Linked DNA regions of Homo sapiens: regions 2, 3, 4, 5, 6 and 7 are each reported to be linked to region 1. The links are microRNA targets in miRTarBase. Many come from high-throughput screens and were not tested one by one. Region 1 holds a microRNA gene; each other region holds the end of a gene's coding sequence.

Region 1 (4,170 bases):
CCCCCTCCTATGTTCCTAGGACCTGGATGCACAAAAGTGAAGCAGGAGCTGTGGCTGACAGTCTCCTTCTGGGGATTCCTTTCTTTCTTTCTTTTTTTTTTTTTGAGACGGCATCTCGCTCTGTCGCCCAGGCTGGAGTACAGTGGCACAATCTCAGCTCACTGCAAGCTCCACCTCCCAGGCTCACGCCATTCTCCTGCCTTCGCCTCCTGAGTAGCTGGGACTACAGGTGCCCACCACCACACTCGGCTAATTTTTCGTGTTTTTAGTAGAGACGGGGTTTCACCGTGTTAGCCAGGATGGTCTTGATCTCCTGACCTCGTGATCTGCCCGCTTCGGCCTCCCAAAGTGCTGGGATTACAGGCGCGAGCCACCTCACCTGGCCGGGAATCCTTTCTGTAAAGCCTGTCACTGCTCCTTCCTAAGCAGCTCTTTAAGGGACTGGGATCTTAATATTTTCCAAGGATCCCAGGTCAGAGTTTTTCCCAGCTCCCTCAACTGAATCTGAACCCCCACAGGAGAAATGTAAACCATGGTACCCATCTGTACCCAACATTCGGGAGCTCACCTTTCCTGTAGAAGATCATGCCAGCTCGGCAGCCTCGCAGGGTCTTGTGAGTGGTGGTGGTCACCACATGGCAGTGTTCAAATGGGGAGGGCACCACGCCAGCCGCCACCAGCCCGCTGATGTGAGCCATGTCCGCCATGAGATACGCCCCGTTCTCATCTGCAATCTTCCGTAGCCGGGCATATTCCAGGTTTCGGGAGTAGCAGCTGGTTCCTGAGACAGGAAAGGTGACACAGCTGCATCAGAGATGTCCACCGGCCAGCTGAGTTGGCTTCACAGTGGCCTCTAGATGTGCAGATCTGAAAGCCCAGAGATTTCTTCCCTTAAAGTCTCAGAGCAAAAATGGAGAATGCCCTCAAAAAGCACCTCTGTGCTAAAGGCAACCACTCTAACTCTTCAACGTCTTGGTGGTTGAGATGGCCCCAACTACTATTGCCAGCGCAGTCAGGGCCTGACATTTCTAGATGCTTCTCTGAGAACAGTCTCACATCTTAATCTACATAGCACAAAAAGCAGCAAACACACATCTGTATCCTGAAAGAAACTAATATATGTAGACCCCAGAAACTCAGTTATCCAGGGCAGAAACTAGCAGTGGGCTCAACAGGGTGCGAACATCTTTCCATCCTCATTCTGTAAGAGGCACCAGGCTACTGGTGAACAAGGTGACTTTCCGCCCCGCGCATCACCTGCGATGATCAGCTTCGGGTGGAAGAGGCGTGCGTTCTCCTCCAGCTGGTCATAGTTGATGTAGCCAGTATCTGGGTTCACCTGTGGAATGTCAGGGAGGCAGGTTCAGGCTGCTTCCTCCAACCACACCTGCCTCCTGTCCTCCCACTTGAACTGGCTCCACCCACCATGACAAGAGGAATGATGTCCTAGATGAGGACTTGAGGGTGAGACAGGATGGATACTGGTGTGTTCAGCCTGCTCAACCAAGTATGGCTCACAGACCCAGGAGTCCCTGAGGAGTCCCAGGGTTGTAGTGAGCCCTGCTGCTGGGGCACTACCTGCTGAGAAGGAACCAAAAAGCACCTGCAGAATGAAACAAATGTGACGGGACCACACAATGGAAACCAAAATGGTTACCTTCAGGAACAAGACCAAAATGCCTGCTAATACTACTTCTATTCCAAGTATAATGAGGCAAGAAAAAGAAACAAAAGGCATAACGATTAGGAAAGAAGAAATTTAAAAACTGACATTACACACAGACAACACAATATACCTAGAAAATCAAGATGCTAGGGGCCAACTGTTAGAATAAGCAAATTTAGCAAGGTCACTGGATACAACATTGAAAAACAAGAAGTAGGGGCTGGGCGCGGTGGCTCACACCTGTAATCCCAGCACTTTGGGAGGCTGAGACGGGCAGATCATGAGGTCAGGAGATCGAGACCATCCTGGCTAACACGGTGAAACCCCGTCTCTACTAAAAATGCAAAAAATTAGCCAGATATGGTGGCGGGCGCCTGTAATCCCAGCTACTTGGGAGGCTGAGGCAGGAGAATGGCGTGAACCCGGGAGGTGGAGCTTGCAGTGAGCCGAGATTGTGCCACTGCACTCCAGCACTCCAGCCTGGGCAACAGAGCGAGACTCCATCTGAAAAAAAAAAAAAAAAAAAGCCAAAAAGTATATAAAAGCAAGAAAGATAGAAAATGAAATGTAAATAACAAAAACCATAAAAGGAAAATCATACCAAACCTTTACACAAAACATCATTGCGTTGTGTATTTTGTGTCACAAAATGCTTGACAAATTATAGTAATTAAGGCAGCACGCATTCATGGAAGGGCAGAGCATCTGGCTTAACCAGAAGCAGAACCACACACAACACAGGTCATTGGATCCATGCCAGTGGTGACGCTGCAGTGCAGTGGGGAGAGGATGACCTTTTCAATCAATGGCACTAGGTCAACTGGGCATCCATTTGGACAAAAATGTTATCTGGATGCCCGCCTCACCCACACAAATCAATTCCATATTCAGCAATCCCACTTGTGAATCTATATCTTAAGAACTTGAAATCAGTATGTCAAAGAGACATGTGCACTCCCATGTTCACTGCAGCACTATTCACAATAGCCAAGTTATGGAATAAAGCCATGTCCATCAACAGATGAATGGACAAAGGAAATGTGACACATATATATATAAACAATGTAATAATAATCAGTCTGAAAAAAGAAATTCTGTCATTTGCAACAACACCGATGAACTTGGAGGACCTTATGCTAAGTGAAATACGCCAGGCTCAGACAGACAAATACTGCATGATCTCACTTCTTTTTTGAGACAGAGTCTCACTCTGTCACCCAGGCTGGAGTGCGGTGGTGCCATCTCGGCTCATTGCAACCTCTACCTCCCAGGCTCAAGCGATTCTCCCACTCAGCCTGCTGAATAGCTGGGACCACAGGCAGTGCCACCACACCCGGCTAATTCTTATATTTTTGTAGAGATGGGGTTTCACCATGTTGCCCAGGCTGGTCTCGAACTCCTGGACTCAAGTGAGCCTCCTACCTCGACCTCCCAAAGTGCTGAGATTATAGGTGTGAGCCACCGCACCTGGCCATGTGATCTTACTTCTATGTGAAATCTAAAACAATCGAACTGCTGGGCGTGGTGGCTTATGCCTGCAGTTCCAGCACTTTGGGAGGCCGAGGCAGGTGGACCACCTGAGGACAGGAGTTTGAGACCAGCCTGGCCAACATGGTGAAACCCCGTCTCTACTAAACATTCACAAATTAGCCAGGCGTGGTGGCGTATGCCTGTAATCCCAGCTATTCGGGAGGCTGAGGCAGGAGAATCACTTGAACCCAGGAGGCGGAGGTTGCAGTGAGTCAAGATGGTGCCACTGCACTCCAGCCTGGGCGACAAAGTGAGACTCTGTCTCAAAAAAAAAAAATTAAAATTGAATAAATAAATAAATAAATAAAACAATCAAACTCACAGAAGCAGGGTAGAATGTGGTTACCAGTCACTGGAGGGTGGCAGACAATGGAGAGATACTGAGCAAAGGGTACAAAGTTGCAGTTAGACAGGAAGAAAAATAATAAATATTTAAGGAGTGGGATATGTTAGTTAACTTGATTCAATAGTTCCACACTGTATATACAAATCATAACATCACTGTGCATCCCATAATTATATATAATTTGTTTAAAAAAAAAAGTCAATTCCAAACAGATTGTAGATCTCGATGTAAAATTTAAAATAATTTTTCTTTTCTGGCAACACATCTCTTAGGAAGTTCATTTTATTAAACTTCTATAAACATATGGGTCAGCCAGGCGTGGTGGCTCACATCTGTAATCTCAGCACTTTGGGAGGCCGAGGGGGTCAGATCACCTGAGGTCAGGAGTTTGAGACCAGCCTAGCCAACATGGTGAAACCCCACCTCTACTAAAAACACAAAATTAGCCAGGCATGGTGGTACACACCTGCAGTCCTAGCGATTCAGGAAGCTGAGGGAGGAGAATCGCTTAAACCCGGGAGGCAGAGGTTGCAGTAAGCTGAGATCGTGCCACTGCACTCCAGCCTGGGCGACAAGAGGGAAACTTTGTCTCAAAAAAAAAAAAAAAAAAAAAAAGGGGTCAGCCGGA
Region 2 (4,170 bases), not on the chromosome of region 1:
AGGAATGCCCTTGTCTTAAGGAAACACACAGTAGATAGAGGTAATAATGCAAAAAATATTTTGGTTGGGATTACATTGAATCTACAAATGTAAATGAACATCTTTACACGACTGAGTCTTCTAATTCGTGTACATTATGGAGTACTACATTTATTTAAGATCTCCTTAAATGCTTCCTGACATGGTCTAACATTTTCTCCATCAAGATCTTGTACATCTTTTGTTAGACTTATTCTTAGGTAGAGTATTTTGTATTTTTTAATGATATTGAAGAGATCTTTCTAAAAACTTCCATTTCTGTTAGTTGCTGATATCTAGGAATACAACTGACTTACATACTGATTGTGAATGTAGCAAATTTGCTAACTCCTAGATGTTAACTGAATAGTCTACATATATAATCATATCAACACATCACCATAATTTCCTGCCTGTAGGAAAGAAAAACCCACAGAATTCCACTGACTATAAGTTATTTAACAATATACAATGGTTGTCATTTAGAGAGATGTTTCCAGTTGTATAAATACTGTAACACAACGATAGCTGGGAATAGTGTAGCCATAGTACCATCTTTAAATCACCCAAATAACTGAGGTACAATTCTATCTGCTTGTGAGTTCACTAGGCAACAAGTCTCAGGGATCATATAGTCTTTGTCTCTGTATCAAAACAAATACACTGCCTAAGGTACACTAAAAGTAATTTAACATACTGTACTCATAAATTCTAACTAAGTTCTCTGTAGGTAAAACATGGCTAGGGAAGTTATGATCAACCCTTCAGAAATGACTTCTTCTGAGTCGTTTGGACAATACGCATCATCTTGGACAATACGCCTCCCACAAGGCTTCCTGGTGTTCTGGCAGCACTAACAGGGCTCCTGCTGTTGCCCTTTCCTTTTGGTCACGTATCTTTCCATGTTGCAAAAAACAACTTCTGGATAAATGATTTCCACCACACTATTAGATAGCACAACACAGTGCACACTGTGGATCCTCTAGAAATAGCAACCTCTTCTCAAGAGATACTTGCCTCAGGGCCCCAGGAAACTAGAAAGCATCTAGAGGCTTAAGGCTCTACGCTGGACAAAGTGCCAGGGAGCCCTAAAGGCAGAAAGGACCCAAAAGTGAAATTCTCATTTTTAAGCTGTGAGGGAAAACAGAGAAATGAGTTTATTACATGATATAACCTTTGGGTGGGCTCCATATATTAAAAGAGAACTGAAGAAGTTTAAAAGTACATTTTCTAAGTTTTAGTATAGGATGATGATAATGTTCTGGAGATGAATAGGTGCTCATGGTTGCAAAACAATGTGAATATACTTAATGCCACTGAACTATATGCTTAAAAATGGTTCAAACAATATACTTAAAAATGGTAAATGTTATGTGTATTTTACCACAATAAAAATTTTTTAAAGTTGCATTTTCTATTGTTAAAAACTACCAGATATTATTTAGTAATCACAGTCATTAAGAGCACTAACCATCAAAATCTGACAGCCCTATGTTTGAGATTTGACTCCACCTGTTACACCTGTGGAACACTGAAGCAAGTCATTTAACTAAGCCTTAGTTTCCTTATCTGTAACACAGAAATAATAACATGCTTACCCACCCATTATAGGTTGCTGTGAACTTGAAATAAAATAATCTATGTAGCACCTTGGCAAAGTTCCTGGCACACAGAGAAGGCTCAATACACATGGGCTCTAATTTTCTTTTTAGGTATTCATAGCAATATGATTATTTTATATTTTGTACAATGAGGACTAAAAACAAGCCTTCAGAAAAAAAAGGGCTGGTTATTGCTCCCTAGACCTTTACATCACATAGAACTATAAAACAGGTTTCCATAAAATTCATTCCACATTGTAGTCAACGGATGTATGATCCTAGGTGTTGACTTCTAAGCCAATGGTTAATAACCTTAAACTCTCATACTGTAATAGGCAACAACTGAAAAGAAGCCACGGGAACATGAAATAATTTAACAAGTTGATATATATATATATATATATTATCAAGTATAACACAGTCATACAAAAACATTTAGTAGAAATATAATTCACACATAAAAACAGTCTACTTATTTTTTGTCCCTTTTATATCCTATTTTAGGCAAAATGATAAAACCCAGAAAATAACAGGAATGTACTAGTCCTAAAAACTGGACCTTTTATAAATGAAACAGATCCGATCACCTATACCTTCTCTCAAATTCCAAATAATGAGGCTTACTGACCTGTACTCTCAGAATCAACTTAAATAAATTTTAGCTTGATTTGGATGAAATATGTACTTTCAGTTGTTGACAATCCAGGTAGAACAAGTACATAAAATGATTCCTAAGTCAAAACATTTCATACAAAAGGAATGGTTTTAACCCAGACAAATCAAGAGGAAATGCACTGAATTCAAAAACTTCTGAAACAGGCATTTTTTGGACCATTTATAAAATACTAAAAAGTTCAGAACTGCTGAAAAACAAAAGTTTATATAAAATAAAGCCAAGGGGTGAAAAACTATCAAATGTATTAAAACCATCTAAAGCCAAATATAATATAACTGAATATATAATTTAGAAACAGGTTTAAGTGCATTTTCTTTGTACAACTGACTATCACATGTAAAAACTGGCAATTAATTAAAATGCAATTAAATACAGATTTGCAAGCCTTCTGGCCATTATGTAAACATTTAAAAATTAACTGAATTGCCAATTGAAAAATAAGAGCTTACATACGTATCTTAAAAAAGCACAAATGGTGAAAGATGCACTATAAAATTGTGTGACAAAACATATGCATACCAACAAAGATCTTTTTAGGCACTTGCATTCAGAAACATTCCTTTTATAAATAAGCACTTATAACAGTTCCACTCCAAAAAATAAACCTGATTTTCCCAAATTGCACCTATTAGTTGAGACTATATCATATATTAGGGATGCATTCAAATGGACCATTTGGTGGGGAAAGTCAACTGAACTTTAAAAAATACGAATCCACCTATCTTATTCACAACTTTAAAAATACAGAATTTAAAGATAATTCCAGTGAGGCACAAATGTGACCCTATCAAAACATTCTACCATTCAGTATTACCAACAGAGGATAAATACAACAACAAAAGGCAAAACCCATGATTTGGCAGTCCTATACAAAAGAGGCCCTGTCAAAACATTCTTTCACAAAACAAGCACAATACCACAAAATAACACAACAACAACAAAAAAACCCTGAAATTTGACATCCCTACACAAATTGTGGAATTTCACCTTCGAGGTCTTCAAACTGTTGCATTCGTTTTAGCCTTGGTCTCTGACACATTGGATTCACATCAGGCAAGCCAAGCTCCTCAGAGTCTTCTTTAGGTTGACCAGTTGCTTGCCCAGGACAAGCTGATGCTTTGTCTGGGTCTGGCATTGACTTCACCACGAGACCGTGGGGATCGTGATCTGTGCCAGGAGGCACTGCTGCTGAGGGTGAAGCTGGCTTCTCCTCATTCCCCCTGATACTGATGATGGGAGCATGTGGTTTATAAAATGTTGTCCAATGTTGAGGCTGCAGTGTTCTGGGTGCTCTGACAGGAGCGAGAGGGTAGGAATCTGAAGACCGTCTCTCAGATGCCTCTCTCACTGACCTGACTGGCTCTGCATATGGCTTACTGGGTTGAGTGGCATTGATAGAATGGTCCCCACTAATCTGGAGGCTTGTTGTCACTCCTTTTTCCTGGAGTGCACTGGGCATGATCATTGTAGTCTTGGCAGTTAGGCTGTTTTGTTCATACTGTTTGTCCTGAATTTTCTGTAGAGTTTGCTGGTCAAAGCCATTAAATTTGGAACAAACAGTAGTAGCAGCGTCTTTTCTATTAACTCCTTCAAAGGCAGGATTCTTGCAAAACTTGTCTAAATTTACATTTCCCATATTTCTGCCATTTCTCTCATTAGGAGGACTTGCAAGAAGTAGTCTATCTACAGGCAAACTTACAGGTCTAATCTTGGTCCTTGGAGTATGCCTCTCCACATTGTTTGTTGACCTATCAGATTTCAGAGAAAGTGGCTTAGGGGTTTTACCATCTTCTATCTTTTGGGATGCTGATTCAGCCTCTTGGTCTAGAAGCAACTGTGCTTTGTCTGAAAATGAAAGAAATCTATTTAAGTTTG
Region 3 (4,170 bases), not on the chromosome of region 1:
GAGGTTTTGGCATAGGCCCCTGATCCTCCTGTTTGCTTTGAGAAATGAGTAGTAGGTGTCAGATTTCAGCCTTCCTTCCACACAGGTATTATATGCCCAAACACATCTTCCCACCTGCCTGGCTGTTCCCTCCCTCCAGCATCGGCTTAAAACTGACCAACAGGCCTGGCCCATTCTTGTGTTCCGTTCCCTAGCCTTTGGTTGCAAACTGCCAGAGTCATGCCACTTGGACTCCTTTCTGAAGGTTCTGCAGAAGCGAGCTAGTGTGACCAACATTCTGTCTCAGGGGCTTGTCTGGGTTTAGCCCCCAAGACCCTGAATTTGGACGGCACCCAGCACAGCACCTCACCCATCACATGGGTTCAGCAAATGCCAGCCCTTCTCACTGTCGTCTTAGTTCCTTCCTCGTCTTTATGCATACTGGCTTCTCATTTGGGTTTTACTTCTCATTTCTGGCATTCACTCCTGCAAAATCTTACCATCTGGCCTCCCAAAGTAGTGTGCCAAGGCTTCCCCGTGACCTCACCGCAGCCTCACACCTGGCCCGGAGCGGCATGCCTCTTCAGGCAGGTGGTGCACAGGTGAGATCATCACACGTGGGCATCACTCAACCTGCATCTCAAATGAAGCCACGTCAGAAGATTCCAGGGGCAAGGAAAACAGCCACATTCCAGGAAAGGCATTTTCATTTTATTTAAAAATTATTTACAATTTATTAAGCCTTCATAAATGCTTTATTTTAAAATCTTTTTTTTAAACTTTTTTTTTAACCTGAAGAAAATCTTTGTGGGGTGGGGGTATATAGGGAGGGGAGTGGTGACAGGCTCCATAGGGATTTTGCAAAGGGATGGGTGTAATGCAACAGCAGTGGCTTGAGCCTGGTGGCCTCAGGTGATGAAGACCAGCCAGGCAGGCACCCCGGGGCCAGTGGTCAGCTGGGCAAGAAGCCTGCATGATGGTAGTTCTTGTTCAAAACTCACCATTTATTGGTTTGGGTCTAAGTACCCAACATTGAGGGCTGACACTTCGCCTGTTCCTACCAGGCAAGAGCAGGTGTTGGGACTGGATGACTGTGAAGTTATCTACGAGAAGTCATGCACTGCTGAGCCTCAGGCCAGGCCAGGCAAGGGGTGTGGTGAAGTCAATAATCATTGCTGGAAAAGGCTTCTCTAGCTCCAAAGTCTTTACTTCCACACGCTGTGGCCCTCCTGTCTGCAACACCTGCTCTGGGTTGTTGGGGAAGAGGGGACAAAGTTATGTGGGGGTGTTGGTTGTACAATACTCTAGGGTGTGCCGAGAATTTCTGAGGACTTCCACTTCTTGGTGGGTGCCAGCCTTCCCCATCAATTGATGGACATTTGAAAAGACCACTTATGATTAAAAACCTGTCTCGAACTGCCCAGTATCCACTTCACTCTGCATTGCAGAAACGCTGGGCTGAAAGTTCCACTATTTAAAATAGTAGTGTTTTTTTTTGTTTGTCTGTTTGTTTTAACTCTTTGTAGGTCTGAGACCTTTGAGAACCTTATGAAAGCTTTAATGCTCTGGAAAAAACATACAAGAATAAATACATTAAATACTGACAGTTTTAGGGGTTTCATAGACCCTCTGAAGTCCAACTATGGACCCCCTGGGGTGATGGACCCCAAGTTAAGAACCCCTGAGTTAACAGTTCCTGTGGGTAAGCATTTTCTTTTGAGATGCAGATAACCCAGAGGAATGATCAGTCTCCCTCCTGCCTGTGAATGACTCAATGGGTGTGGGGAGGTGGGAGGGAGGGTTTTGGAGGAAGGGGAGGGAAGCTGGATGGTATACTACGGGGAAAGGTTTGGGAATGGTTTGGAGATTTAGCAGACAGCACTCGATCAATGAGTTCAGTGAGTACTTGACTGAGAACATCTAAAGAGTAGGAGACAGATCAGAAAGGGAGATAGTTATTCTGAAGACAAATTTCACTTACTTCCAAGTTTTCCCTAAGGCTGGCTGTGGTTGCTTTTCTTTTCTTTTCTCTTTCTTTCTTTCTTTTTTTTTTTTGCGGGGGGAGACAGAGTCTCGCTCTGTTGCCTAGGATGAAGTGCAGTGGTGTGATCTCAGCTCACTGCAACCTCTGCCTCCCAGGTTCAAGCGATTCTCCTGCCTCAGCCTCCCGAGTAGCTGGGACTACATGCCCAGGAGAGATGGGGTTTCACCATGTTGGCCAGGCTGGTCTCAAACTCCTGACTTCAAGTGATCCACCCGCCTCGGTCTTCCAAACTGTTGGGATTACAGGTGTGAGCCACCGCGCCCGGCTTTGCGGTTGCTTTTCAGAACTGTTTTATTCTTGGAAGCAGGTATGCGCGGTCACTCTGCCATCTGGTGGTTATGCTTGGAATTGCACCTGCCCCAACTTCAGGAGAAAAACCAGAGATCCAGTAAGTTCTTGGAATAAAGTACACTCAGCTGATCTGCTAGGGTGTAGTAAGGGGGTGGGAGAAGGACAAATGCATGAAAAAGAAGAATGATTCTTCAACATTCCTGTGTAACTCCCACTGAAGTCCCATGAGATTATGTATCTTTCTTGGCTGACCTGGGCACTCTTTGGTTTGTCATGGCTAAACTTGCTTTCAGCACTTACAGTTTTTCCATGTAAGTTTTGTTTGTTTTTTGCTTTGATTTGCACTTAAGACCTGAAGTTCCATCTCTGGCTCCCAGTTGGGTCTCTCTGCTCCCTGTTCCTTCTCTTCCAGAGCAGAATTATTGATCGATTGAAGACTGCTGATTGGGAGCCAAAACAGATGTGTCCCTGGTAAAAACAGTGACTTGAGGTTCCATCTCACATTCTTTCCATTCCAGCTGAGACATACTGCCCCAGGCTGCTGGAACCCTTATCTAACAGGAAACCAGTCACTAACAGTTTTCTGTGCTGTAATGTCAATCACGCGCCAACATGGCTGAGTCCCACTTCTTTAAAGCTCTGGGGGAAATTCTTGGTCCATCCCCTGAACTAATCTTCAGACCTCCTACTCCAGCCTCCCATGTGCCTGTCTGCCAATGGCACCTTCTGAGCCAAGCTATGCATGAAATGTGTTAGAAAGTTAACATTTTGTTCTGGAGGAAAGAATGGCAAGTTCCAAGACGATAGGTCTCCTATGGCATCAGGGGACCCAAAGAACAAAGAAGAGCATCAGGGGTCCCAGAGTGGCATTGTCAGCTTGCAGTCAGACATCTCTTTTCCAGTCCCAGACTATGCTGTGGAAAAGACCATTTCTAGCATGTTCTATCAGAGGCACCTCCTTCTGTTATGGCCATGTCAAGGTTCTGAGTCGAACTGGAGGTAACGAGGGAAAATCTGCCAAACTGACAGCTAGGGGTGAAGAGATGGAAGGGAAGGCAGAACATTCTGTCACCTGTGGGAGGCCTTGGGGGAAGCAGATGATGGGAGGGTGGATTCTCCCCCAAAGCTCTGGAATTTCACACACCCAGTGAATGCTGGCTTTGCCCTGTCATGTGATCAGAGGTGTTAAATTGGAGTTGTCCTCAGAGGTTCTCTCTCCTTCTGGTGACCTCTTCCTTTTTTGGCCACCTGAAAAAAACAAGTTGCAAGTATCAGCCTGTAACACTGGAGGAACATTCATAATTGCTTGGCAGTCTGAGTTCTTTTCAAAACAGAAGCAGAAATGGAGACAAAGCCCTTGACAGCTTGGTTAGAACTAACCGGCATTGTATGCTGGTGCTGATATTGGCATATTTACATCTTGAAAGATTAGGACGTACTTTCCACATAAGATGCCATCTCTGAAAAGTCACAAACCCAGGCTGGTGCCTGGAATTGAGACTTCCTGGAGGGGACTGAGTAAAGCCCATGTAACACCTCAGGCCCATGCCTCCTGCGCCCCTTGGGGGCCAGCCCCTCTGACTGCCAGACACCCTCAGAGAGGACCAATCTCATAGACTTTGATGTCCCATGAATCAGGGTTGGTGGCTGTAGCTGCAAGCCATTTCCAGGGACCTGCGTTCTCTAGCTCTGAAGCAACCTCCCTTCTGCAGTGGGGCAGGTGGGCATAATTACATAGTTGTCCTCAAGGATGAGAGAGCAATCTGTTCCCAGGTCTGTTTTTAGGAAGGAATATCTTCACCTTGTTCTCTCCACCATTGACTTCCATCTGTGGAGGAGATTGCTCTCTTTCTATT
Region 4 (4,170 bases), not on the chromosome of region 1:
CGACCAGTGGCTCAAGCCTGTAATCCCAGCACTTTGAGAGGCCAAAGTGGGCAGATCACCTGAGGTCAGGAGTTCCAGACCAGCCTGGCCAACATGGTGAAACCCCATCTCTACTAAAAATACAAAACTTAGCCAGGTGTGGTGGCGCATGCATGTAGTCCCAGCTACTGAGGAGGCTGAGGCAGGAGAATCGCCTGAACCTGGGAGGCAGAGGTTGCAGTGAGCCAAGATCGTGCCACTTCACTCCAGACTGGGTGACAGAGCAAGGCTCCGTCTCAAAAAAAAAAAAGGTTTGCCACTCTGAGTGGAAACCACTTTTAATAAGGTCAAGTAATGCTCATACTTCATGGACCTCAAATTTTTCTTTACCTAGCACCATCTGTAATTCTCTCACTCCCACCAACCACCCTAGGGAAAGCTTGATACGGAACATTTTCAACAAATTCTGACATGGACTTAAGCTTTAAGGAACAGGGAGAAGAATGTGTTTTCTGCTCTAGAGTGTTGCCTCCTTCACGGCAGTTGAGTTGCTCACGGCCTCCATTTAGCAATTCAAGGTACCTTTGTGGGCTGGTCTTGAGGCTCGGATTTGCCATATTGATTTCTACCCAAACTTTAATCAATCAATCAGTTAATTCACTTTTGCTTTGTTATTTCAGCTTTGAAGATTATGAAACAGATGAACCTGCCTCTCCCTCTGAATTTGGAAACAAAAGCAATAAAATATTAAGTGCAAGCCTTCCAGAGAAATGTGGAAAGCTTCAATCAGTGGATGAAGAATAGCTGCCGGTGTCTACAATGAAACGAAGATGTGTATTTTAAATGTTTCTTTCTTGTGAAGAGATGTTCTCGTTTGCATACTGCTTTTTAAAGACTTTGATTTCTCCAAGTGTGTATCATCTGCACTAGGAACTTTGTTTTTAAGCAATAGGTCTGGATACACATTTAACTTAGGAGGCTCCTCCAATTTGCCTCAAACCTCTTACGGAGCTTCTCCTCAGAAGTGGTACCATCGCCTTCCAAAGTCAGCACTCTACACTCTTGAATGTACCAAGGATCTCTTGGCGACAGTACCAAGCACGGTTCTCTACACAGGTGACTGAAGTTGCCTCTGTGTTGGCTGGCATCCCTGAGTCCCCTCCGGGCTCCTATGGAGCCTAGAAGAAACCTTCACTTGCAGAAAACTTGAGTCAGAAAATTCTGGAACTTGAAAAAGTAGTAAGGGCCTCCAGAATTGACTTAGCCCTAGTAATAAAAGCACTGCCAAAACATCTCAGAGACTTCTTTTATGTATACTGGAGTTCAAAGATCTTTAACTTACCTGGCTTAATGTAATTTCACAGTTACCTGCCAAACTACTAGTCACTTTACATCCTCAGGTATTGTAACCACTGGGCCTTCCAACTTTGCTGGCAAGCTCTGGTAACCTCCCTGACTGTGGATCTTATATAAAATCTCAAGATAAAAAAACACTTCTTAAATGAAGTATAGAATTTGACTCATACTTGGAAAAAGCCCTTTTAACTTTTATCTTTTATTCATTGAACTATTGAATGATGTATTTAATATCCAAATTAGTTGATAACTGTTTTCACTTCCTATCAGAAGGCCTGCTTGAAGACATAAAGGAATAATGATACATTAAAATTCTTACTAGATAGATATATTCCTTCCTCCCAGGAGTATTAGACTAGCTAATAGTAAAGGCCTCAACGTTATTCTTTACTTCATGTTGAAAACAATTACTACAGATATTTCATCCACCTCAGTATTTATCAAGGAAATGGAAAATGATACAGCTATAAAAGAAAGCTGTTATTTACTGTAGTTGTAGATGTATTCACTACAGAATCCTACATTTTTCAGCAGGCCACAGTCCAGCCAAATCCTATAATATCCTTGAAAAGAAACTATTAAAAAGGATAGACATTTCTGATGTAAGTAAAACCCCCAAGCAACTTAATATCCATCTGTCAGTCATCAACTTTTCCCCTAGATTTTTTTTTTAACTAGTTCTGAAAGTGTCAAGAATAGCTTCCCTTTCCACCCTACCTAGGTTCCCTCCTTGCTGGCATAAAGGCCAAGCAGTGAAATGAACCTTGGGTTAGAGTTATGGTAGGCAAAAAGAAAAGGAGAATTTAGGAAATAAATATGCTATAAACAAGGTACAGTACAGTGAGAGTTAACAATCCTAGGAATCCTGCCTGTCACAAGCTCCCAGTTCCCTGTCATTTTATCTTCATGATTAGAACTGATCTTCCATTTAACTATTACAGAAAGCAGTAACTATTGCAACTATCTAATAGTTCACACAAAAGAATTAAAAGCTTAAAAATAATTTTTAGGAAACACAATATTCAAAATCTAAACACACTGATAAATTATTAAGATTAAGATTATTTATGTGATAAATGAAATCTCCTACCAATCCATCCAGCCTTTACCAGGGAAGAAAAGCAATTATTTCATTTCAGATAGAAATACAAAAAAAAAAAAAATACTTTTCTTAGAAGCCAGATATGGTTTAAATGTTTTATTATCCATAATGATCTAAACTAATAAGATTCACCAAAAAGTAAAAATTCAATTTTACAATATACATTTTTTTTTTTAACTATTTGGCTTTACCTTTTTACCTTGGTTCTCCTTACTGAAGTCCTCTTGCTTTCACTTTGATCTGGTTTTTGAAGTCTCTTAATTATTGGCTGGGCATGGTGACTCATGCCTGTAATCCCGGCACTTTGGGAGGCCAAGGGAGGTGATCACTTGAGCCCAGGAGTAAAGACCAGCCTGGGCAACATAGTGAGACTCCGTCTCTACAAAAAATAAATTTAGCTGGGCATGGTGGTGCACATCTGTAGTCCTACCAACTTGGGAGGCTGAGGCAGGAGAATCGCTTGAGCCCCAGGCTTCGAGGCTGCAGTGAGCTATGATTACGACACTGCACTCCAGCCTAGGCGACAGAGCAAGACCCCATTCTCTTACAAAGTCTCTATTATAAAAGTACATCCATCAATACCATTCCATTTAAAATGGGCTATTGTAATTTACCCACATTATCACATTTTCAGGAATTATAAGAATGTGTTTTATTGTACTCCTTCCTTGGAGCTGAATGCAAGGAATGTGAATTCTGAGGAATTAAGGTAGAATATATTTGACTTTCTGGTAAAGATCATGGTTAAGTATAATCATTACTGCCAAACTGGAATTTTCAAGTTATTATAATATCCCAGGCCCCTTGATAAAAGCTGAGGGTTATCATGACCTTAATGCTAATTCAATGAGAAATGAGTTTAATAGCATAACATTACCAAGGTAATCAAACTAATAAAATTCCATATATCTTCCCTGCATCTTGTCACTGTGTACCATTCAAAGTGTTTATAAAACTCTAGATTCATCAAATGAGATTTGCTCAGCTTTTTGAAATGTTAAGATGTGTTTGGAGAAGGCTGCATGACTTTGTTTTTCCCTTTTAGCAAAACTAAATAAAGTTGTCAAATATGAATCATGTTCATTAAGGTAATTACTACACACTTGTGCTTTTAATCATATTTGCACCTCATTTTTTTGTCTGCAAGAGTAACACTGTAAACAAGCTTGAATGTCAGAGAATAACTCTTTGAGCCCATGTGAAAACTACAAAGAAAGGTCTTTGTAGTAATGACAATATACTGAGAAATGATTTCTTCAGGGGATAGGGAAGAGGACCAGGGTTTGTGAATGAGGCGGAGTTCACAGGAATCAAGGTAGACTTTAGCCTCATCTATAATGCATTATTTTAAAAGAATGTGTAACGGCATGTTTTGGGGTACCTAAATTTTATTTCAGAGGCAAGGTCTATGTTGCCCAGGCTGAGTTCGAACTCCTGAGCTTAAGTGATCCTCCCACCTCAGCCTCCTAAGTAGCTGAGATTACAGGCACACACCACTGTGCCTAGCTTTTAATTTTTTTAAAAAGAGAAAAGTATAAAATACCATACTTTGAACTTAGTATTTTCTAAAGCATTTCTGTTTTTTATCTATGATATGGTTATGGACAATTTATTTTTCATCTGATTCCCATAAAACTTTTACTCTTCTTCAACAAGGTCACCAATAAATTGTTTTAACTAAGAATACAATGAAATAAAAGGAATTCTTTATCCCTAGGACCATACTACACCTC
Region 5 (4,170 bases), not on the chromosome of region 1:
GGGGGGCTTGGTGGATCCTGAGCTGACTTGCCTATTTACAGCATTTTAAAATCCTATAGTTACATGTAGTTTTGTGTAAATAGGGTTTATTAGAATGTAACTTCCCTGAAGAGGTGGATGATATATTCTTTTTTTTTTTTTTGAGATGGAGTCTCACTCTGTCACCCAGGCTGGAGTGCAATGGTGTAATCTTGGCTCACTGCAACCTCTGCCTCCTGGATTCAAGCCATTCTCATGCCTCACCTGCTAGCATGCCCACCTAATTTTTCTACTTTTAGTAGAGACAGGGTTTCACCATGTTGGTCAGGCTGGTCTTGAACTCCTGAACTCAAGCAATCCACCCACCTCACCCTCCCAAAAGTGCTGGGATTACAGGCTTGAGCCACTGTGCCCGGCCTGGTGTACTTATTTATTTTTTTGAGACGGAGTCTTGCTTTGTCACCCGGTTGGAGTGCAGTGGCGTGATCTCGGCTCACTGCAACCTCCGCCTCTTGGGTTCAAGTGATTCTCCTGCCTCAGCCTGCCGAGTAGCTGGGACTACAGGTGCGCCCCACCACGCCCAGCTAATTTTTGTATTTTTAGTAGAGATGGAGTTTCACCATGTGGGCCAGGATGGTCTCGATCTCTTGACCTCGTGATCTGCCTGCCTCAGCCTTCCAAAGTGTTGGGATTACAGGCATGAGCCACCACGCCTGGCCTTGGTGTACTTACTTTTAATGCTTAGAGTACTCATCACACCTGCAAGACATTCAATAAATGTTTGCTGAATGAAAGGGACAGATGAAGCTGTACTATCCCTGTGATCACACAGGGAGATAAGGCAGTGCTAGCCTCATTCCAATGCTTGTTCCAAGCTCTCTTGTCTCATCACAGGGCTGTTACAGGCTCAGATGAGAGGACTGTATACATCTCTTAATGCCTTGGTGATACAAAATCCCATGAATTTCTTCTGATAGTTTGTTGGGGGACACTATAAGTTTAAAATTAAAGGGGGAGAAGGCCGGGCACAGTGGTTCACGCTTGTAATCCCAGCACTTTGGGAGGCCAAGACGGGCAGATCACCTGAGGTCAGGAGTTTGAGACCAGCCTGGCCAACATGGCAAAACCCCAACTCTACTAAAAAATACAAAAAAATTAGCAGGGCGTGGTGTTGCATGCCTGTAATCCCAGCTACTTGGGAGACTGAGGCAGGAGAATCACTTGAACCTGGGAGGCAGAGGTCGCAGTGAGCCGTTATCACACCACTGCACTCCAGCCTGGGCAACAGAGTGAGACTCTGTCTCAAAAATAAAATAAAATAAAATAAAATAAAATAAAATAAAATAAAATAAAATAAAATAAAATAAAATAAAATAAAATAAAATAAATAAAATAAAATAAAATAAAATAATAAAAGGGGAGAAACTCAGCAAAAATCACTTTTGGGCTGGGCATGGTGGCTCACACCTATAATTCCAGCACTTTGGGAGCCCAAGACAGCAGGATTGCTTGAAGCCAGGAGTTTGAGACCAACCTGGGCAACATAGCAAGACCCATCTCTACAAAAAAATGACAGAATTAGCCAGGTGTGGTGGTACATGTCTGTACTCCCAGCTACTTGGAAGGCTGAGGTGGATCACTTGAGCTCAGGAATTCAATGCTGCAGTGAGCTATGATAGTGCCACAGCACTCTAGCCTAGGCAAGAATAAGACCTCACCTCTAAAATAAATTTTAAAAAATCACTTGCGATTTTCTGCACTGCAGCCTAATAGAGCTTTAATAACTGGGAAGTGACCTCATCACATCTCCTAAATGTGACAGGAACTAGGAACACATCTGACCTTATGCACTTTAATACTACCTTTTTTCAGCATTTTTTTCAACATTTCTATGCTGGGACTAAAAAAATCAAGATGTGCTCCTCCACTAAAACCTCCACTGTCCAATTGGAATTGCAGTCTAGACAATTCTAAGGAAAAGTGATGGCCATATTCTGAAGAACATAAGTAGGTCTCAGTAGTTATAAACTCTTTTCACCAAAATGCTGTTTGATCCTCATCCTGAGAGCATTATTTAAAAAAATCTCCAAAGCTCACCACTCATTAATAACCTAACAGTTTTTCAAGACTGTGGGATATAGCAAAGATGCCTCTGCTGTGTCCTTGTTCTCTCTGCAAGCTTTTTACCAGGTGCTGGACTGGAGACTTGCTGAGTGCTAGACCACAGTGATTTGGTCATAGCTGGATGTGAAGATGGCTGGCTGTTCTTTCAGAAGGGACCTGGCTGGAGTTCTTATTGCTCAAAGCTCCAGCTTGCAGCACTGGGCTAGAGCTGATGGAAGGAGAGCTGTTACTATTCTGTTCTACGTGAATGCTACACTGTGAAAGAACAGCATCATCCGACTTGGGCAACAAGATAGTATTCAAGATGTCTTAGAAGGCCTAATCAGAACTTACCAGCTGTAGCATAGCACTCCCTCAAGTGCAGATGCTGGACCTCTGCAGCAGAAATTACTCAAGCTGTTCAGTATAATAGAAATGAAAATTCCCCATCCCATCCTTAACCTATTATCATCAGATACCTTAGGGCAGGGGAGGGGAGTAGACAAAAACCTGATTTTATTTTTATTTATTATTTTTTGAGGCAGAGTCTCGCTCTGTCGCCCAGGCTGGAGTGCAGTGGTGCGACCTCGGCTCACTGCAAGCTCCACCTCCTGGGTTCATGCCATTCTCCTGCCTCAGCCTCCCCAGTAGCTGGGACTACAGGCGCGCGACACCACGCCCGGTTAATTTTTTGTATTTTTTAGTAGAGATGGAGTTTCACCGTGTTAGCCAGGATGGTCTCAATCTCCTGACCTCGTGATCCACCTGCCTCGGCCTCCCAAAGTGCTGGGATTACAGGCGTGAGCCACCGTGCCCGGCCAAAACCGTGTTTTAAAACAAACTCTAGAATAACTGATGTCTGTAAGTTGGAGAACTGATGTGCAGGACATGATCCACATGCCTCTAATAAAACACCTGGAGAGGCAGCTATTGTGGATCGAGACTCCTGTCCTTAGTCTTCACCAAGCAGCACAGGCTGTGGAACCGAAGCTTCAGGTTTGCCTTCACTGGCTGAACTATGGTACCCAGAGGGCAGGAATCATGTCTGCTCTTCACTGATGCTCCTCATTCCCAGGAACACACAACACATAGTGTCACGCTGTAAGCAGAGCCAGGCTAGTAGTAGCCAGGAATAGGTCAGCTACCGAGGTGAGCGGTACCTAGTTGGTCTTCTTGGATCTCAGCCATCCTCATAACCTTTCAAAAACTCATTCATAGGAAAAACTTCAAAATGTCCTGCTTACCTGCAGTTACTAAATCCAGTGAGGTAAAGATGCTCCCAGTCTAGAATTGTACTCTAGCCCCTAAATCTTGCTGGGAGTCTCAGGAGAGGGTGTGATATACCTAAGGTTACTCCCTGTGATGTTCTGAATGGTGAGCACTTGTTTCTGCTGACTGTGGTCGCCAGGGATCGTTACCCACTTGACACGACAGGAGAAAACAGGTCACAGATTAACTGGCAGCCACACAGTGCATATGTATGGTAATATGGGGGGAAGGGTAGCACACAGACAAATCATCTGCCCAAGTGCATGCTGAGTGGATACAGATCACAGGCTGAGCACCTGGGGGCAGGGCTTTAAATCTTGGACTAAATTCACTCATGAGCCCTCCAGGATATCTGCTGGCAGGTGCACTGAGGATGTACATAGCACATGTGTTTGATAATGCAGTCCAATTGGGGAGTGGATAAAGTGCATTTATTTTCTTCTATGTTTGTTTTTGTAAAAAGGAGAAAGGAAGCAAAAGACTCCTTCCTTTCAGACCCAGTGTCCACTGAGCTTGGAGGGGGTGGAGCCGGGACCAGCCCCCTAGGAAAAGGTGTAGGAATAGAAGGCAATGGCATTGGCGCTATAGTCCATGGGGAGGAGGTGCCCGATGTGCCTGGCCCCTAGGCTGGCCCCACCCAGAGCGGAGGAGTGCCTCAGCTTCATCAGGGTGAAGCTGGAGAAGAAGTTCTGAGCCTGGATCTCTCTGCCCTGGGTCAGCGCCAGAAGAAAACCTGGAGGGAAGAACACAAGGACAGAGATAAGAGGAGAACAGCAACCTGTACTGGGGCCAGGAAGGAAGACAGACAAGGACGCCCAG
Region 6 (4,170 bases), not on the chromosome of region 1:
GGGAGGCCCAGGCGGGAGAACTGCTTGAGCCCAGGAGTTCAGAATCAGCCTGGGCAACATAGCAATACTCCGTCTCATAAAAATTAATAAATAAAAAGTCTCAGGTGACCAAAGGCTCCTGAAGCTAGAACCAGGTTTGGATAAAGATTGAAGAGCCACAGGCCACTCTTCCCTCTGAGCCATTGGGCCTAGTGGTGTCATGTATTGTAATTGCTCGCAGGGAGAGCAGTCTTTTTGGTGTAATAGTGGGATGTCTGCTTAGTTGGCAGGGGTTCAGTCCAAATGGAAGAATATTGGGAAATAAACCTCCACTATCCTTTATAGCCAGGGACTTTTTTCTTATTTATTCATAAAATAAATTATAGTTAATTATACCCATAACACCTTTATTTAAATCCAGTGTTCTCCGCAGCCTTTTGTCTATTTATATGTGTACCAAGTGTTAAACATAATTATTATTGGGCATTTGAACTTTGTTTTTCTTTAAAGAAATGCTGCTATTAAACATATTTGTAAATGGTTTGTTTTTCTTCTTTTGAATTATTTCCTTAGGAGAGTAGGTCAAAGTGTAGGAAGTATTTATGGCTCTCAGTATGGATTAGCCTTCAAAAGAACTGAGTCAAGTTACACTGCTGTTAGCAGTGTGTGAGAATGGCTGCCTCTGCCCCCTGGCCTTCCCATGTTTAGTATTTTTCAGATTGTGTGTGTGTTAAATGAAGCCAGTGTTGCTACCTTCTGTAAATTACTACAGGTCAACATCCAACCCTTTCAGCTGTCCCTGCCTGCCTTGGTTTCCCCAGCTAAGCCCCAAAGCCAGGTGGCCAGGCCTGCTCATCTCTCTGGTGGGGCTTAATATCAGTTACCTAACTGGGGCTGGGTGTCCTTGAGGTGACCACTGGGGTCTATTTCCTCCTTCCTCCCCTTCCCTCTTGTACCCTAGTTCCCAAAATTCTGATTCAGTCTTTTTTTTTTTTTTTTGAGACAGAATCTCTGTTGCCCACACTGGAGTGCAGTGGCACGATCTTGGCTCGCTGCAAACTCCGCCTCCCAGGTTCAAGTGATTCTCACACATCAGCCTCCTGAGTAGCTGGGACTACAGGTGTGCACCACCACACCCTGCTAATTTTTTTGGTATTTTTAGTAGAGATGGAGTTTTGCCATGTTGGTCAGGCTGTTCTTGAACTCCTGGCCTGAAGTGATCCACCCGCCTTGGCTTCCCAAAGTGCTGGGATTACAGGCATGAGCCAAGGCACTCAGCCCATTTTTTACTTTTTTAAAGACACGTCTCTCTGTGTTGCCCAGGCTGGTCTCGAACTCCTGAACTCATCCTTCCACCTCAGCCTCCCAGAGTGCTGGGATTACAGGCATGAGCGACCACGCCTAGCTTCCAATTCAGTCTTGAGCCCATAAACTTCTCAGTACAGTGGTTTCCAATGCACCTGTTTCCAAGTATATCCTAAGAATCTTGTGTTAACAGGGGCCTGCTTTAATCAGGGTTCCTGCAATTAGCGTATTAGTTTATTGGTAAATAAGCACTGGTTTGTTAATTCCCTCTAGAAATCTTGTTTAGTAATGTTTTTTGTGTTTTCTTTTTGTTTGTTTGTTTGTTGTTTTTGTTTTGAGACAGTCTTGCTCTTGCCCAGGCTGGAGTCCAGTGGTGCCACATTGGCTCACTGCAACCTCCGCCTCCCAGGTTCAAGCGGTTCTCCTGCCTCAGCCTCAGAAGTAGCTGGGATTACAGGCACCCACGCCCAGCTAATTTTTGTATTTTTAGTAGGGATGGGGTTTCACCATGTTGGCCAGGCTGGTCTCGAACTCCTGACCTCAGGTGATCCACCTTCCTTGGCCTCCCAAAGTGCTGGGATTACAGGTGTGAGCCACCACGCCCAGCCTTGTTTAGTAACTTTTTTTTTTTTGAGACGGAGTCTCGCTCTGTCGCCCAGGCTGGAGTGCAGTGGCGTGATCTCGGCTCACTGCAAGCTCCGCCTCCCGGGTTCACGCCATTCTCCTGCCTCAGCCTCCCAAGTAGCTGGGACTACAGGCGCCCACCACTACGCCTGGCTAATTTTTTTGTATTTTTAGTAGAGACGTGGTTTCACCCTGTTAGCCAGGATGGTCTCGATCTCCTGACCTCGTGATCCGCCCATCTCGGCCTCCCAAAGTGCTGGGATTACAGGAGTGAGCCACCACGCCCAGCCATTGTTTAGTAATTTCTTAAGCAAACCTACTTGTTGTGGTAAAGCCATAGCCAGCCCAGCTCCTGTATCAGTTTGTCACAGAATCTAAGGTCAGAATCTGTGAGGTCTTAAAGAGAGCAAAAGGAATGCTTACTTGAGAATACCAGTTCATATTTAATTACTACTAATCACAGTAGCACTGAACATGGCTCTAGTGAGTGGGCCTCAGTCAGTTCAGGCAGCTAAAGGGAGGGGGATTTCCTCCTAGTCCTCTCCCTAGAGCTAAATATGCATCTGGGAAAAATTAGGCTCTGGAGCACAGAGGTATTTTTCTAGAGGAAAAAGAACTGAACTCCCAGCACTAGGTAAAACTGCAAAAAGAAAAACACCTGTGCCCAGGCACTAGCTACAAGGCCACACCAGAAAAGGAAAGCTGGGTCCTGGAAGCTTCAGGACAGGAACTCTTCCTTGGTCAAGTTTTCCCCAGCACCTAGCACATAGGAAGGTGCTTGATGAGTGAGTGTTAAATGAACCTGTGAGTGCTCAGGATGATTTCCTGATAATTGGGTTCAGGAATCTACTGGGAGGAGCTTAAACCTAGAAGTTCCCTTTTTGAAAGTCTCAAATATGGTTCCCTAACTTAGAGAAGACAGATGATGTGGGAAGGAGGCCTGAGGAGAGGATGCAGGCTGGCAGAAGGGAGCAGGGTGCATGCGAGCCCAGACCCTGACACCCTTCCAAGGGTGGTGACTGGGTGGCCACTACACAGCACCAGCCTGCTGCAGAGTTCAAAACTAGAAGGGGTTACATGAAAGTGTTCCCAGGATGTGGAGCTGCCCTGGGCTAAGTTCAGTCACCTGCCAGCCTCTGCCGTTCCCATCACCACAGAGCACCTCAGCACCACTCGCCTGAGGAACGGGCTCTGTGTTGCACAGGCCCATGCCTGACGGCCCACCCAGAAACACCCATCTGCTGACCTCTGACCTGGGAACGAGTGAGTGGCTACAACCTCAGCTGAACCCCACATGGTGACATCTTCCAGCAAGGCAAGGACATCAGCACCTCACGCCCATTTACAGGCCCCTCACATGAGCCACTGCTCCTTCTCTTTGATGAAGTGCTCCGCCCAGCGGCGTGTCAGCTCCAGGTACAGGCTGGGCTGGTGAGGCAGGTAGTCCAAATACAGGCGGGTGGGTGTCTTCTTGGGAATGGCCTTCTCAATCTGGGTGCCCTCGTGCCACTCATTGAAGGAGGTAATGGAAACGATCTCGGGCCTCACTGTCAGGGCCGCCTGCAGGGCCGTCTCATAGTACTTGCCATTGACCCTGTTGCGCGTATTGTGGTTGTTCCAGGGCCGAATGCTGGTGTCTATGTAGCCAGGCCCCACACTGGGGATGAACATGAGGTTGTTGGCATCACAAAAGTTCTTCACAGCTTTCCAGTTCTGATGGGAAGAACCAAAGGAGAAACCATTGGAGGCAAAGTAGGTGTACATGCCGTCAAATCCGGCGGCCAGGATATCGTGGGTGTGGCCCTCCTCCACCAGCAGCGCTATGAAGACCCCATCGTAGGGCGTGTTGCGGATCGAATGGGGCCCGTTTGGTGTCAGGAGGTGGGCCCAGGCCTCAGGGGACGTCAGGTATGAGTCGTAGATATAAAAGAGTGGGAGGCTCTTGCCCATGCTGTTCTTATAGCGGTAAAATGCACCATGGGAGCCATACCTGAGAAGGAGAAAGAAGAGCCTCAGCTGGATGGGAGAGACCAGCACAGCTGTAGGACCTCCCGTGGATGAGATACGGATGCAACACAGCCCAGTTCTGGAGCCAGTCAGTCTCCACAGTTGGAGTCATCATGCCTCTAAGCAAGAACCTGGTTCCCTCCTTCCTCTCTCCAGTTGTCATTCCTAAGCCTCACTTCCCTACCCTTAGCCAAGCCACCACCGTCTTCCATCTGGATTGCAACAACAGCCAGCTAACTGGTCTCCAGGCTCCCA
Region 7 (4,170 bases), not on the chromosome of region 1:
GTGCAGTCTATCCCTGTTTCCCATTTCTTGAAATTCATTGGTAACTTTGCCCCAACAAGTGTCTTGTAACCACTTCCCTCGTTCTCATTATTGTTTTTCCTTTTTATATTTATTATCTTTCCAGTAGAATTTAGTGAAGAAATATAGTCTGCCATCTTGAATTGTGGAACAGCATGCATTTAAATTGTATTTTATTTAATTTCTGCCTGAAAATATTGAGTTCTCAGTGATTTACATCAGTTGGTATGTGACAGCTCAGTGATGCAGAAGAGACCATTTTGTTCTCTGAGAGTCTCATCAGAATTGTGCTTGCATTTATGTAGTACTTATGTCTATGTCAGAGTGCTGTGTCCTCCCATCTTAGATGACGACTATATATTAATATGTCCTCTGCTTTCTGTTGTTCCATTACATTAAGGGTAGAATACTGTATTCACAGTGAATAATCTGTTAGTATTCTTCAAGACCTCTTATCTGCCAGGCAGGATGCTAGATCCTAAAGATAACAAAGATAAGTAAGGTATGTTCCTTGTCCTCATAGACTCATGGGAGCTCACATTCTAGGTGGGTAGAAAGACCAGTAGTTATGAGACAATATAATAGACATCACAGTGTACAAAGAGCTATTCTCGTGTTGCGTAATGAAGCATATAGGTACTGAACTAGCAAATAAAGGATCCTCAGTCAGTACCGGTGCTTCCTCATCATATGTAAGTAATATTTAAGATATTTTTATGTTTAAGATGCCAGAAGCTAAATAAACTTTTCTCCCTTATAGTTTTGACACATGATGAACTCTAGCACTGGTGTATATGAGAAGGAAGGCGAAAGCATGACAGGAAACCTGCCGCCTGCTGGGGAAGTCTGGAGCCCCTGCTGAGACGATTTGGAAGTCTCGTTAAGATCAGTGACATATTCTTTAATTTTAAAAAATTGTAATTATTTAAAACAGTTATTTAATGTATTGAATGAGTTTAAGTTATATAATAAATGACCATTGAGTATTTAAAACCTGATTGTTCCTTTTTCCTGATCACCAGTTAAAGTTTGACATTTTGCCAGATAGCCCAGGTACCGGACTAGCTGGTGTTTATCAAACTATAGCCTTTTGTATCTGGTTTTATGTGCATCCACATTTCCTTATTCACAAAATGCATTTAAAATTACAGAAATGCATTTAGGCTGGGTGCAGTGGCTACACCTGTAATCCCAGCACTTTAGGAGGCCAAGACAGGTGGATCAGCTGAGTTCAGGAGTTTGAGACCACCCTGGCCAACATGGCAGAACCCCGTCTCTACGAAAAATACAAAAAATTAGCTGGGCGTGACGGTGGGCGCCTGTAATCCCAGCTACTTGGGAGCCTGAGGCAGGAGAATTGTTTGAACCCGGGAGGCAGGGGTTTCAGTGAGCCGATATTGCGCCCATTGCACTCAAGCCTGGGCGACAGAGTAAGACTGTCTCAAAAAATAATAACAATAATAATATTACAGAAATGCATTTAAAATTACAGAAACCTATTTTGTATTTTTCCTTCTGAGACAACAATAATTAATAATTAAGCCCATTTATTCCTTAACTATTGTTTTAAAATGGAAGTAATATTGTTGCATAGTAATCATTTATCTTAAACAATGTTTTAATCTTATGCGGTATTTGGATTTTTTAATGTTTCTAATTTTATGTCATAAAAAGCATTTATGGGCATGTGGGATATATGTGTATTCTCTTTTTAAAAGGACTAGGTACTTTTATGGGAACTAAGTTGAGGATGTAACCAGTTTGTTTTTCTGATGTGTATTAATAATAGATGAATAATAGTAAATGTTTAAAAACTATCCAACTATTCTAAAATCATAGGATCATGGGACTGGAAGAGAACTCAGTGCCATTTGGACCTCATCCTGTGGAGAGTCTGATTCATTAGGTCTAAAGTAAGCTTGGTAAATCATGATTGTTTAAAAAGCTCTCCAGATGGTTCTGTAATTAGACAAGTTTGAGAAGCATTTAATAGAATTGGGCCCCAGCCAGTGTGCCGGCCCCTCTTCTAAGGCCCTGCCTGTAAAGCTGAGCCTCAGGCCATCTTGGAAATTCCAGGACAACAGGGAACTCTCCACCTCTAGAGACAGGCTGGTCCATCTTTGGACAGCTCTGTACACACAGTTCCATCATGAGCCGAAGCTCACTCCTGTGAGCTTTTCAGAACAAGGCTAATCCTTCTGTGTTTGACAGAACAGCCCATAGAGTTAAAATACTACTCCTCCCATCAGCTCCATTCATTCCTAATAAGAGAGCGCCTGCCTCTCCCTCTTGCAGTCATCCTCCCTTTGTTACTTGTTCGTGTTTGTCTGTATTAAAATGGAGTGCACCATTTATGGCCTGCTCTGGTGGAACTAGGTTATTCCTGTGAGTTCAGAGTATCCTATAGGGTACACTCAGAGGCTGGAGCAGTAAATGGTCCTGGGGCGGCCAGCGTCATGGTGCTCTCCGGCTCACTCTTGGGAGTCAGCTGAAGCTGGGGATTGGTAAGAGGTGAGACTCTGTAAGGTTCTAGGTCAGGCCAGATGCTCCACCCAGCTACCCAGAGGTCTGCTGCGGTGGCTGGGGCACAAACCTCAACTATAAGATGGTACTTTGTTTTCCTTTGTTACCAGCCTGTCTTCACTTCTGTGAGAATCTTATAGAAAGGATGATCAGCTGGGCAGAGACACCGGATTCCTACTTTTATTACCTACAATGGCCTTCTCCAGTATTCTAGGTCCCATATTTTCATGGAGTATTAAGCTAAAATTACAGAACAATGTAAACACAGTCTTGATGGCCCCCCTCCCTGTTTGCATCTTGTGATCTGAGTGGCCAGTTTACATGTTACATTTCCAGGTGAGTGACACCTTATACCAGAAAATCCAGATTTATAAATAAGGTATTTCTTTACAGTGAGATGTTTTAATTAAATGGCTTGTTTTAAAAATGCTGTTATGTCAAGAGCTCTCATGCATACAAACTGCTGTGCCATACAAAAATGTACCCTCCTCAGGGACACATTACATAACTGAACCATAGGTCTTATTTGCTAACACTTGGAGAGAAAGCCATTCAGTTCCTTGTCCTGGAGATGCTGAACAAATATAGTCCAACGGCTTTCATGGTATATTCAGGATCCTAAATTCTGGTTCTCGGCTGCAGGCCCTATGTCAAGTTTTAACAAAAATCAAATCCTAGAAGTAGTGGAGGTCAGCGGAATGTGGGGGAACTAGTTTCTAACTATGGGAAGTGATAAATGTCTTCTCTTTCTGCCTTCTTAGAAAAAGTGTCAGAACAGTGTATCTAAACTAAGAATGAGAAGCATTTGTGTTTGACCCACAGTGATGTGTGAGCTTTATGTAGAAAGTAGACCCAGAATCTGAGCATTAAGACAATCCAAAGTCAGCATACCACCTCCAACACTTAGGTCCAAAAGATTGTATTTGGGAAATGCCTGTCATTTGGCTCCAGTTACCCTCAAGCTCCTAGAGAACAACATAGCTCCTAGAAGGATAGCATCAAATACTTCTAAAGGCACCTAAAGCCATGTCAGCCTGGGGTTATAAAATCAGGCTTTTAATATTAAACATGTAGTCTGACACAAGTGGGACCTGCCCACAGAACTGCTTGTTGCTGTGTGCCAGGTCCTGACTCCAGCACCTGAAAAGCAACCAGACAACAAATTGCCACTGCCCAGAAGAGGCTCCAGGGACCCAACAGAATACTTTCATGGGCAGGAGGTACGGGACAAGTCAGATGAACACGTGGATCATGTGTCTCAGATCCATAGTTACAGAGATGAAGTAAAAGGTGCTGATGGGCCCATGCTCAAACCAACAAGCAGAAGTTATGACCCAGCCATTGTCTCACTCACTTCTGTTACTTCATAGACTGAAGGGGCTCCACTCACTTCTAAAGAACCAGTTGATTGGTTAAAATCTCACCTTTGGTGGCAGAGTGAGGAAGAGGAAACATGATGGTCCAGGGCTTTGATGGCCAAAATTACAGGTAACTTTGTAAGTTAGAGGGGCTCGGTCAGGTGTGTAAGCCCATTCTAGAACCTCTCTTTTTTAAAGTCTTCAAGTGTTATCGTAATGTGACAGCTGTTCCCCATTTTCTATTTGTTAACCCCATTTACCAAATACAAAC

What was found. The annotated mature microRNA hsa-miR-6778-3p reads UGCCUCCCUGACAUUCCACAG and lies in region 1 at 1,340-1,360, opposite strand. An mRNA with a match to its seed (bases 2 to 7 or 8) in the 3' UTR can be bound and repressed. Matches are read on the target gene's strand: a 7mer-m8 pairs with bases 2 to 8, a 7mer-A1 pairs with bases 2 to 7 and ends in A, and an 8mer does both.
Region 2: miRTarBase lists ARHGAP29 as a target of hsa-miR-6778-3p. Seed matches in the 3' UTR shown: 7mer-m8 at 838-844.
Region 3: miRTarBase lists CNNM1 as a target of hsa-miR-6778-3p. Seed matches in the 3' UTR shown: 7mer-m8 at 3,008-3,014, 7mer-m8 at 2,142-2,148 and 8mer at 2,109-2,116.
Region 4: miRTarBase lists PPP2R3A as a target of hsa-miR-6778-3p. Seed matches in the 3' UTR shown: 7mer-m8 at 2,744-2,750 and 7mer-m8 at 2,874-2,880.
Region 5: miRTarBase lists NAGK as a target of hsa-miR-6778-3p. Seed matches in the 3' UTR shown: 7mer-m8 at 2,856-2,862 and 7mer-m8 at 2,721-2,727.
Region 6: miRTarBase lists MANEAL as a target of hsa-miR-6778-3p. The part of its 3' UTR that is shown has no 7-base or 8-base seed match.
Region 7: miRTarBase lists UGGT2 as a target of hsa-miR-6778-3p. The part of its 3' UTR that is shown has no 7-base or 8-base seed match.

What each region holds. Positions count from the first base shown.
Region 1 is chr17:18,339,475-18,343,644 of GRCh38, forward strand. It overlaps MIR6778 (microRNA 6778), which reads right to left and starts at 1,412; the gene lies at 1,340-1,412. It overlaps SHMT1 (serine hydroxymethyltransferase 1), which reads right to left. Exons shown (of 12, transcript NM_004169.5): 6 at 1,258-1,339; 7 at 569-781.
Region 2 is chr1:94,170,610-94,174,779 of GRCh38, forward strand. It overlaps ARHGAP29 (Rho GTPase activating protein 29), which reads right to left. Exons shown (of 23, transcript NM_004815.4): 23 at 1-4,140. The coding sequence ends at 3,260. Among named protein-coding and RNA genes, the nearest start is that of ABCA4, 52 kb to the left of the region's middle.
Region 3 is chr10:99,390,829-99,394,998 of GRCh38, reverse strand. It overlaps CNNM1 (cyclin and CBS domain divalent metal cation transport mediator 1), which reads right to left. Exons shown (of 11, transcript NM_020348.3): 11 at 669-3,562. The coding sequence ends at 3,483. Among named protein-coding and RNA genes, the nearest start is that of GOT1, 38 kb to the left of the region's middle.
Region 4 is chr3:136,144,384-136,148,553 of GRCh38, forward strand. PPP2R3A (protein phosphatase 2 regulatory subunit B''alpha) reads left to right here. Exons shown (of 14, transcript NM_002718.5): 14 at 660-3,511. The coding sequence ends at 783. Among named protein-coding and RNA genes, the nearest start is that of MSL2, 50 kb to the right of the region's middle.
Region 5 is chr2:71,078,232-71,082,401 of GRCh38, reverse strand. NAGK (N-acetylglucosamine kinase) reads right to left here. Exons shown (of 10, transcript NM_017567.6): 10 at 2,594-4,084. The coding sequence ends at 3,894. Among named protein-coding and RNA genes, the nearest start is that of NAGK, 12 kb to the right of the region's middle.
Region 6 is chr1:37,799,295-37,803,464 of GRCh38, reverse strand. It overlaps MANEAL (mannosidase endo-alpha like), which reads right to left. Exons shown (of 4, transcript NM_001113482.2): 4 at 2,332-3,898. The coding sequence ends at 3,262. YRDC (yrdC N6-threonylcarbamoyltransferase domain containing) reads left to right here. Exons shown (of 5, transcript NM_024640.4): 5 at 1-520. Among named protein-coding and RNA genes, the nearest start is that of C1orf122, 6.4 kb to the left of the region's middle.
Region 7 is chr13:95,798,421-95,802,590 of GRCh38, reverse strand. It overlaps UGGT2 (UDP-glucose glycoprotein glucosyltransferase 2), which reads left to right. Exons shown (of 39, transcript NM_020121.4): 39 at 779-1,011. The coding sequence ends at 801. Among named protein-coding and RNA genes, the nearest start is that of DNAJC3, 120 kb to the right of the region's middle.